3 linked regions of the Homo sapiens genome follow. The protein of the gene in region 3 purifies or fractionates together with the protein of the main gene of each other region. This does not show direct contact. Each region holds a gene or a part of one and is shown on either strand. Other genes may lie near its edges. The genes, in order: TCERG1, RBM25 and POLQ.

What was found.
Region 1: the proteins of POLQ (region 3) and TCERG1 purify together in Homo sapiens (affinity purification with mass spectrometry; one large-scale study listed by BioGRID and IntAct). This does not show direct contact.
Region 2: the proteins of POLQ (region 3) and RBM25 purify together in Homo sapiens (affinity purification with mass spectrometry; one large-scale study listed by BioGRID and IntAct). This does not show direct contact.

The regions. Positions count from the first base shown.
Region 1 is NC_000005.10:146,457,277-146,460,927, forward strand, and holds part of TCERG1 (transcription elongation regulator 1), read left to right. Parts: coding exon 1-59; intron 60-1,607; coding exon 1,608-2,061; intron 2,062-3,651. UniProt on the Homo sapiens protein: Transcription factor that binds RNA polymerase II and inhibits the elongation of transcripts from target promoters. Regulates transcription elongation in a TATA box-dependent manner.
Region 2 is NC_000014.9:73,061,417-73,065,067, forward strand, and holds part of RBM25 (RNA-binding protein 25), read left to right. Parts: intron 1-3,555; exon of another isoform or gene 3,556-3,651. UniProt on the Homo sapiens protein: RNA-binding protein that acts as a regulator of alternative pre-mRNA splicing. Involved in apoptotic cell death through the regulation of the apoptotic factor BCL2L1 isoform expression.
Region 3 is NC_000003.12:121,543,742-121,547,492, reverse strand, and holds the start of POLQ (DNA polymerase theta), read left to right. Parts: upstream 1-1,504; 5' UTR 1,505-1,615; coding exon 1,616-1,778; intron 1,779-2,586; coding exon 2,587-2,766; intron 2,767-3,751. UniProt on the Homo sapiens protein: Low-fidelity DNA polymerase with a helicase activity that promotes microhomology-mediated end-joining (MMEJ), an alternative non-homologous end-joining (NHEJ) machinery required to repair double-strand breaks in DNA during mitosis.

The sequences.
Region 1 (3,651 bases), on a different chromosome or scaffold from region 3:
CTCCAGCACTACCTCCTACGGAGGAGATATGGGTTGAAAATAAAACTCCAGATGGGAAGGTAAATAATAAAATATATTTAAGTTGTCATTTGTTGACAGAGGAGTAAAACTTAAAGAGTTCTGGCAGATTGAGGTCAGTGATACTGTCATTTAAGAATGAGCCCTGGGTGAGCAGGGAATGGGGTAAGACTTCAGGAGAAGCTGACTGGATTTAGTTTTTGTGCAGCAGATATAAGGTTGCCTGGAGTGCTAACACACATTTACCTGTGATTCTGGAAGCTTCTGGTCACATTGGTACCATCTGCCTAGCACATACCAAATTCCAGGCTCCTAGAAGGAAAGCAGGTGTTCAGCGTAGCTGGTTTAGGCACATCGAGCCATTCTTATCAGTAAGGGAATGTCAACCCTCCTGAAATCCAAGTTCTTGGACTCCAGATAAGGGTCAGCAGGGCTTTCTACAGATAGCTGTCTCAGGTCTGTTATGTTGAATTTCTGCATAAAACATAACATGGGTTTTCCTTTGTGCTCATTATAGAAAATTGGGCTGTGGGGTGGAATTACCTATTTTTGTTGTTTTGTTTTTGTTTTTTGAGATGGAAGTTTCACCCTGTCGCCCAGGCTAGAGAGCAGTAGTGCAATGTTGGTTCACTGCAACCTCTGCCTCCTGGATTCAAGCAATTCTCCTGCCTCAGCCTCCTGAGTAGCTGGAGTTACAGGCACCTGCCATCATGCTCGGCTAATTTTTGTATTTTTAATAGAGACAGGGTTTCACCATGTTGGCCAGGCTGGTCTCGAACTCTTGACCTCAGGTAATCCCACCCGCCTTGGCCTCCCATAGTGCTGGGATTACAGGCGTGAGCCACTGTGCCTGGCCCTAAGTTATTTTATTTTATTTTATTTTTTATTTTTTTATTTTTGAGATGGAGTCTCGTGCTGTCACCCAGCCTGGAGTGCAGTGGTGCGATCTTTGGTTCACTGCAACCTCCGCCTCCCGGGTTCAAGTGATTCTCCTTCCTCAGCCTCCCAAGTAGCTGGGATTACAGGCGCCTGCCATCACGTCTAGCTAAATTTTTGTATTTTTAGTAGAGACAGGGTTTTACCATGTTGGCCAGGTTGGTCTCAAACTCCTGACCTCAGGTGATCTGCTCACTTCAGCCTCCCAAAGTGCTGGGATTACAGGTGTGAGCCACCGCGCCCAGCTATTTTTTATTTTTGAGATGGAGTCTCCCTCTGTCACCCAGGCTGGAGTGCAGTGGTATGATCTCGGCGCACTGCAGCCTCCACTTCCTGGGTTCAAGTGATTGTTTTGCCTCAGCCTCCCGAGTAGCTGGGATTACAGATGCCGGCCACCACACCTGGCTAATTTTTTTATATTTTTAGTAGAGATGGGGTTTCACCATTTTGGCCAGGCTGGTTGGTCTTGAACTCCTGACTTTAAGTGATCCACCTGCCTCTGCCTCCCAAAGTGCTGGGATTACAGGAATGAGCCACCACGCCTGGCCCTACGTTATTTTTAAATAGCTTTAAAGATAAAATATGGTTCCATTCTTGTTTTTAATAATAACTGACAGATTTTATGATACCATTGATTTTTGCTTCCGCTGCAGGTTTATTATTATAATGCTCGGACACGTGAATCTGCATGGACCAAGCCAGATGGAGTTAAGGTTATTCAGCAATCAGAACTGACACCTATGCTTGCAGCCCAGGCACAGGTTCAGGCTCAGGCCCAGGCGCAGGCTCAGGCCCAGGCGCAGGCTCAGGCCCAGGCACAAGCTCAGGCCCAGGCTCAGGCTCAGGCCCAGGCCCAGGCCCAGGCCCAGGCCCAGGCCCAAGCCCAAGCCCAGGCCCAGGCTCAGGCTCAGGCACAAGCTCAGGCCCAGGCCCAGGCTCAGGTCCAGGCCCAGGTCCAGGCACAAGTGCAAGCACAAGCAGTTGGAGCTTCCACCCCTACGACCAGTAGCCCAGCACCTGCAGTATCCACTTCAACATCATCATCCACCCCTTCCTCTACCACTTCTACCACAACAACTGCTACTTCAGTTGCGCAGACAGTATCAAGTGAGTACCACTCAGCATGTGTTTTTATATAGGGGCTAGAGACATGAACAAGTAGGGGACTACATTTCATATTGATCCCAGTGTTTCTGGTATTATCCTTTAATACCAGAATTATTTAAAATACATTTTTGACACTAAAACTTTTGGGTTAGAGGAAAACAGGAATTTATATTAACAGGAGAAATTATTTGCCCAGTTGCAGTTTATGAAGCTAAATTGAGAAAGTGCAAAGTTAGCTGTTCCACTTGGCCAACAGTAATGCCGGGCATTGTGGGTTTGCAAAATAAGTGTAAGTCTTGGTCCCTACCTTACAGTTTCCAGTATTCCTAATCGAGGAGGCAAGAATAACACGTGTTAAACAATTAGATATTGGTGTGCAAAACTATACAGTGAGAAAGATGTAAGAATTTGAGAAGTGGATAAATGAGTGGGTGGACTACATGGGTATTTATCATGAAGGAAACGGAGTAGGGTTTAAGCAGGTTCACAGGTAAGGAAAGGATTTTCAGGTAGGAGAAGCAACATGAATAAAGGTCAGGAAAATGATAAATGTAGTTTATGGGTTTTTAGGAAACTTCTGAGGTGAGAGGGTGTTTTTTTTGAAGGGTCTTAAGAACTAGGCAAATAGGTGAGACAGGCACTGGGGGCCTGTATAAATGCAGTATTTTGGAGGATTTTTTTTGGTGTTGGTTTTTTGGGTGGTGATGAAATAAGGGAGGTTTATTAGGAGCTTCTCAGTAATCTCTTTTAGAATAGTTTCTAGACTGGGATGCGAGTAGGTGAATTGAGGAGTTGCCATAGAAGGGAGCAGTCAGAAAGGCAGGAGAATTTTCAGGTGTAAACTCACAGAGGCCCAAAGAGTAGATCTTTTCTGAAAAGGTGAGAGTCGATTAATAGCAGATTTCAGAGATTAAGAGAGGGACACAGCTATTAATTTGCTTAAAAGATTGTTATTAATGTGACAATATTGCTTTCTTTTTGGGGGGTTTCTTTCTTTTTTTCTTTTTTCTTTTTTTTTTTGTATCAATATATGGATGTTGCTCCTTACTCTGCAGGTTGAGACTAAGCCCGAAAGTACTTAAATAATGATTTTTTTATTTGATTATTTGTTATGGCACTTGTCTCAAGATACACAGCTGTCCCTACAGTGTGATTATAATTTGTATTATTTTACTACCAGGATAATTGATAAGAATAAAGAAAAAATGTGGGGTTTTTTTGTGATTACTTCAGGGACTTGGGAATTATTAGTGTGTAAGAAATACGTATAAGAGAGAAATTAATTCACATTGGCTTCAAATTTGAATTTATTTTATTGATAAAAAGCAACTGAAGCAGTCAAGTAAGGTACATATAATATGGGGATAGCCTTTAAAGATCCTCTTAATGGTTTTTAGACATTTTGTAGCGGGGGAATGTACTGAACAGGAAAATATGAATAGTGTTTTACAAATCTGTTTGCTTTTGTAGTGAAGGTGAATTTTGATATGAAAGTATAACAGTCATACTAGCTAGTCTGTTAAGGGTTGTTACCTTTTTATAGGTTTAGTGCTTCCCAAACCTCTGTGGCAAGGCAGGAGACTACCAGTT
Region 2 (3,651 bases), on a different chromosome or scaffold from region 3:
GTGCACAATTCAATGATTTTTGGTAAATATACAAAGTTATGCATCCATTACCCCAAAAGGATTCCTTCTGTCTGTTTGCAAGTCACCCTGTTCCACCCCAGTTTCAGGCAAGCCCTCATTTTTCTGTATAGATAGTAGTAGATAGCGCTGCTTTTTTGTTTTATTTGGTTTTTGAGATGGGGTCTCTTTCACCCAGGTGGAGGGCAGTGCTGCGATCTTGGCTCACTGCAACTTCCGCATTTCAGGCTTAAGCAATCCTCCCACCCCAGCCTCCCAAGTAGCTGGGACCACAGGTGCACGCCACCATGCCTGGCTATTTTTTTGTATTTTTGGTAGAGATGGGGTTTCACCATGTTGCCCAGGCGGGTCTGGAACTCAGGCTCAAAGGATCCACCTGCCTCGTCCTCCCAAAGTGCTGGGATTACAGGTATGAGCCACTGTGCCCAGCCTTGTTTTTGTTTTTAAAAAGATGAATTCTTCCTGTGTTGCTCAGGCTGGAGTGCAGTGGCTATTCACAGGCGTAATCCCACTATTGATCAGTTTGGGAGTTTTGCCCTTCTCTGTTGGCAACCTGGTGGTTCTCTCTCATCCCAGGAGGTCACCATATTAATGCTGAATGGACTTAGCATGAACACCTGATCAGTAGCGTGCTGCAGCCCAGAACTCCAGGGCTCAAGTGATCCTCCTGCGTAGCTGTGACTATAGGCAGGCACAGGAGTGTTGCTCTTTAATCATTGAAAATGGTAAAACAACAAAAGTGGCAATGTCAGAAAAAGATCAACTCTTTTTTGGAGATTTCCAAACAATTGAGTATTTTCATACTTCTGAAAAGCTTTGCTGTAAAAGTAGTTTTTCTGTTAAGCATTTCCCATTCTTCTTTGGGCATAAAACACTTTTTTTTTTCTAGGAATAATTCCTGCAGACCTGACACATAATTGGAAGTAGATATTGAATGAATGAGTGAGTTGTATGTGAATATTTGCTCAGAGGAATCTCAGTTCATTATCATTTCAGAAATTTGGCACGTAGTGTACTGATGGAGCTAGTCTAAAATAATCTATCCTGGGAGAAATAATTTTGTTTCTATCTGGATAAGTCTACAATAGAGGAATGCTTATTAGCAGTGTTTTGCTGTATTTTGCATACTTGCAGTATTCTTAAGAGTGCAGAAAAAAATAGTTTGAAAGATTCAAAGAGAAAAAAGTGAAAAAAGAAAAGCTGAGTGCATGCATATGTTGAGTACTAGAGATATGTCTTCAGGGTTTCTTTTTGGACCAGATTTCTTGAGATAAAATTTGCATACAATAAAATGCATCTGTTTTAATTTCAATGAGTTTAGACAAATGCATATACTTGTGTGACCACCGCTACACTAGAGGTAGGGAACCCTTCTATCATAGGTTTCTGTTATTTTATTTAATTTTTGGGGGGCCTCACTCTGTCGCCCAGGCTTGAGTGCAGTGGTGTGAGCTCGGCTCATTGCAACCTCCACCTCCCGGGCTCAAGCGATTCTCCCATCTCAGCCTCCTGAGTATCTGGGACCACAGGTGCATGCTACCACACCTGGCTAATTTTTTGTATTTTTGGTAGAGATGGGGTTTCACCATGTCGCCCAGGCTGGTCTTGAACTCCTGAGCTCAAGTGATCTGCATGCCTTGGCCTCCCAAAACGCCGGGATTACAGGTATGAGCCACTGCACCTGGCCCAGGTTCCTGTTTTTATTATCGTGGGCTATAGAGTTTCTTTTTTTTGAGATGGAGTCTGGCTCTGTCGCCCAGGCTGGAGTGCAGTGGCACAATCTCTGCTCACTGCAAGCTCCGCCTCCCGGGTTCACGCCATTCTCCTGCCTCAGCCTCCCGAGTAGCTGGGACTACAGGCGCCTGCCACTATGCCCGGCTAAATTTTTGTATTTTTAGTAGAGACGAGATTTCACTGTGTTAGCCAGGATGGTCTCGATCTCCTGACTTCGTGATCCACCCACCTCGGCCTCCCAAAGTGCTGGGATTACAGGCTTGAGCCACCGCGCCCGGCCCGGAGTTTCATACTTAGCAGGAAAAGGTGCTTTGAACCTTCTAAAATGTGAGGTACTTTCAATATTTTAAAAAATGCTATGGAAATGATTTCAGTGCCATAAGATAACTCTGCATTTCTCTCTTTTAAATCCCACATATTATACAATCCCTCAGCAAATCCTATTGGCTGCCTTCAAAATATATCCAGGATCCAACAACTTGATAGCACTTTCACCACTACCACCTGTTCCAGGCCACCATCTCTCCAGGCTACCATCTCTTATATGGATTATTGTACCAGTCTCTTGCTTGTATCCTGTTCCCTTCCAGGCTTAACACAGTGGCCAGTGATACTGTTAAAATGTGACAAGTCAGAAACTCTTCAAATGATTTTCACCTCATTCAGAGTTAAAACTAAAATGTTTATTTACATTGTGTTACATAGCCCTACACTCTACTCATAATACTCAGTATTTATTTCTGATTTTCTTCATTTATTCTGCTCCAGTCATACTGTTGGCCTTGCTATTCCTCCCTCAAATACACCATTCCTGCTTCAGCCTCTTTGTATTTGTCTTTTCCTTTGCTTGGAAGTCTCTTTCCCCCAGATATGAATAGGGCTTCCTGCCTCTGCCTCTTTTAAATCTTTGTTCTAATCTTCACCTTCTTGGTGAGGCCTAATCGCTGTATTTAAAATAAACTACTCCATAGCTCTCTTCCCTAATTTATTTTTCTACAAAGTACATACCATCTTTCAATGTATTATAATTTATTTTGTTTATCATCTATAGGTAACAGATAAGCTTTGCTTATGATTATGAAAGTTAATTCTCAATCAGTTTCACATGGCAAAACACATAAACCTGTGTTGAAATAAGTAGTTGGTAATCTTTTAGGCTGCTTAAAGTGGACATTAGTATTTATCAAAGATGAGAAATGTTTTCTGATTTTCCATGAGAGACCAATCTTTTTTATTTTTGTTTTGAAATGGAGTCTCGCTCTGTCACCCAGGTTGGAGTGCAGTGGCGCGGTCCCAGCTCACTGCAACCTCTGCCTCCCAGGTTTAAGCAATTCTCCTGCCTCAGTCTCCCGAGTAGCTGGGACTACGGGCGCCTACCACCATTCCTGGCTAATTTTTGTATTTTTAATAGAGACGGGCTTTCACCATGTTGGCCAGTCTGGCCTCGAACTCCTGACCTTGTGATCCGCCCGCCTCAGCCTCCCAAAGTGCTGGGATTACAGATGTGAGCCACCGCGCCCAGGAGAGGCCAGTTATCTTAAAGGAATATCCATAAAAATTAGCTGTTAACTGGTATTTTTGCCTTCACCTTTGAAGTCCAGCCTATCAACAAGCAAGTTTTGGCAGCTCCAAATAAAGGGGAATATGTTATGGAAAAATTTGAAGTGAATGGAATGGGTATATTGGCATAAACGAAAATTAAATATATCTGGTTAACTCTGCAGAATGAATTACACATTTAAAAACCATAAAATATAACTTAAATACCAAGAATATAGAGTTTTACTTTTTTTTTTTTTTTAGACGGAGTCTTACTCTGTCGTTCAGGTTGGAGTGCAGTGGCGCGACCTCGGCTCACTGCAACATCTGCCTCCCAGGTTCAAGCAATTCTCCTGCCTC
Region 3 (3,751 bases):
CAGAGTTGCACTGTTAACCCTTAAGTTACACTGCATCTGAGAAAGTTCTTTCTTGGCTGCAATCTAGGGGTCTCTCTCTCTTTTTTTTTTTTTTCTTTTTTTGAGACGGAGTCTTTCTTTGTCGCACAGGTTGGAGTGCAGTGGTGCGATCTCGGCTCACTACAACCACCGCCTCCCAGGTTCAAGCAATTCTCCCGCCTCAGCCTCCAGAGTAGCTGGGATTACAGGCACCCGCCATCATACCCGGCTAATTTTTTGTATTTTTGTAGAGACGGGGTTTCACCATGTTGGCCAGGCTGGTCTAGAGCTCCTGACCTCAGGTGATGCACTCATCTCGGCCTCCCAAAGTGCTGGGATTACAGGCGTGAGCCACCACGGCCGGCGAGATCTCTTTTATTTCTTTAATAGTACTCTTCATTTCTGCCCAAGCATATGGCACACTTCATTAACTGACTTGTTTAATGTCTGCCTTATTCTCTAGACTCTTTCTCTTTGAGAGCAGGAACCATTTTATGCCATTTCACTGCCATTTACCCAGTGGCTAGCTTACAGTAGATACTCAGTAAATAGTTGTTGATTGCGTAAAAGGCCAAGAGAAAAATGTTTCATTCACGGAGTAATGTCGCCATCTCGTGGAACTTTAGAATATTGTCATTTAAATCAAAAAAATGTTTTCACGGAAGGAATTGATGGTTCGAATGCTATTTTCCAGATTGTATTCGAGTGTTTTTTTTTTTTTTAATTGGACTGGACCTTTTGAGATTTTTAGTGCTCTAGAACTGCACAGCCTCTTCAGGTCAGGCTTAGGGCCTACTAGTTTTGCTTGGTGAAATGAATTATGCAACTAGGTAATGAATGGTCACCGTTTTACGTTCAGAACTCGTTCGCTTCTACCTTTACAAAAGGGACAACACAGATGCATTACTAAGCTCTTGGCTCATAACGATCCCTGGGGTATATTCAGAGCCCCTTCCTCGCGGCGTTCATATAGTGTCTCAGGGGTCTGTCAGCCAGCAATCCCCAATTCCTCATTACATATTCCTCACAATGCATGCTGGCTAAAATGGAAATTGTGTTCAGAAATAGCCCTGCCCTACCATCATATACTAGGAGAAAGGAGGAAATTATGCTCTATTAGAAACCCTAGGCTATCTTGCATAATGCTTCTCAATCTGAAATAATTTTTTACAGAATACCAATACGTTAAGAAGAGCTACTTCCCTGATCTACCTATTATGGGCAGCCCATTTTATGAAGTTAGCATGGCCTTCCTATTCAAACCAGAAATGGACAAAAGGAGAAGGAAGGCTTTTAGGTCAGTATGGTTATAACTGTAGATTCTGTATTCTTCCTCTTTAATCTATCTCTCATATTAACCAACCAGGAGGTTGGAGGCCGGAAGTCTTAGACGCCAGCGAGAGCCGCTCCTTCCCCACGAGTCTATGGCTTTCGGGTTACTTAAGCCACGGAGAACTCTATGGTTCCGGGGCGGGCCGGGAGGTTTGAGTTTGAAGACTGGCGGGAAGATGTCCGCAGCTGTTGCCAGGCCAGGGTTCTCCCGAGAGGGAGGACGCTGGGACTGTGGCTTGCCCTGATCGGCCGAGAAGAGTTTGCCATGAATCTTCTGCGTCGGAGTGGGAAACGGCGGCGTTCAGAATCAGGCTCAGATTCGTTCTCGGGAAGCGGCGGTGACAGCAGTGCCAGCCCCCAGTTCCTCTCCGGGTCCGTGCTGAGCCCGCCGCCCGGCCTTGGTCGCTGCCTGAAGGCCGCAGCTGCAGGTGCTCCAGGAACCCGGGAGGCCGCGGGCAACGGGGGCAGCTCCGCCGGGCCATGGGTCGGGAGGTGTCCTCACCCCACGGGACTTGCTTCGTTGCATACCCCATTGGGCTTCTACTCCCCTTCTCTGTGACTGGGGCCTGGTGTGGCAGGTCACTTTCTGTTCAGACATACGCGTGTTTTCAGTGATCGCCTGGTATTAATGTTCACGTGGCTTCTGGATCTTTCGACCTTTAGAGAAACAACTTCCTAGTTAGCTTCATCCCATCATCTGTTGGGCGGCTCGTTCCTGGTAGTACCCAGTACTCCTTACAGACCCTTAAGACAGGATTGTTGGGCCTGGAGTACGGCACAGGCTGTTCGGCGTCCAGGGGAAGGCTGGAAGGGATTCGTAATGAGATTGGTTGGGTGTCCCGTGGATGTCGACCCAGTTTTTTAAAATCGTTAGTTGTGCAGTCGTCATGGAACTAAAACTTACTATAAATAGAAACTCACCTAACTTAGCTTTGTAATGCTTGCATATTGCCCTCCTCCCCCAACTACACCCGTAATTCCAACACTCTTTATCTACTGTGTATTGCACGCTTTTTTGTTCGTTTGAGGCTTTTAAGGAATTTTTATTATATGCAGTAAATAACAATTTATTACTTTTCTATACATGGTCAATTTCTCATAAGATTCTTGAAGTCAGGATGTGCTTTAAAGAGCTTCATTTCAACACATAGGAATTCCAACACACGGTGAAGGGCTAACTGTAAAACTCATATATTAGAAGTAAATTAAATTTTAATTTTTTCTTTTTCCTAAAAGGAGAATGCAAGCCTACAGTTCCTGACTACGAAAGAGACAAGCTACTATTGGCAAACTGGGGACTTCCTAAAGCAGTTCTGGAAAAATACCACAGTTTTGGTGTAAAAAAGATGTTTGAATGGCAGGCAGAGTGCCTTTTGCTTGGACAAGTCCTGGAAGGAAAGAATTTAGTTTATTCAGGTATCCAAATTTATGTAAACTAATTACTATTTTTAAGATATGAATGTAAAGAATACTCTATTGAGGTAGTTGTGGTTCGTTTAAAAGGTGAATGAGGCAGTGCTTTATAACTAGAGAAAATCGTACAATATGTGTGAAAAGTGGAGTTTTATTTATATTTAAATTACAAAAGTTTTATTGTTTGACTGGGGTGGAGGGAAGCAAGAAAAATGACAATTTAAAGAGTGGGCAATTCTGCCTGCCATTATTCTCAACAAACATATATCCCAGTGAGTGTGCAATGGGAGATGTAAATCTGCCCTTCCCCTGTTTGATCCTGGTTGCTTTTCAGGGTATGAGCATTATCATTACATGTTTGTTAATTTACCTTTTTTTTTTCTTGAGATAGAGTTTGTCTCCAGGCTGGAGTGCAGTGGCGCTATGTGGGCTTACTGCAACTTCCACCTCCCAGGTTCAAGTGATTCTCCTGCCTCAGCCTCCCAAGTAGCTGGAATTACAGGTGTGCGCCACCAGGCCCAGCTACTTTTTTGTATTTTTAGTAGAGATGGGATTTCACTGTGTTGGCCAGACTGGTCTTGAGCTTCTGACAAGTGATCTGCCTACCTTAGCCTCCCAAAGTGCTGGGATTATAGGTGTGAGTCACCGTGCCCAGCTATAGATTGACCTGTTTGTACAGGGTTGTATATACAAACAACAAGTAATATACTTTATATAAAATTTTTATGGGTTTTCTTTTTTTTTTTTGAGATGGAGTCTTGCTCTGTCGCCCAGACTGGAGTGCAATGGAGTTGTCTCGGCTCACGGCACCCTCTGCCTCCCGGGTTCAAGTGATTCACCTGCCTCAGCCTCCTGAGTACCTAGGATTACAGATGCCCGCTGCCATGCCTAGCTAATTTTTGTATTTTTAGTAGAGACGGGGTTTCACATCTTGGTCAGGCTGGTCTCGAACTCCTGACCTCAGGTGATCCACGCACCTCAGCCTCCC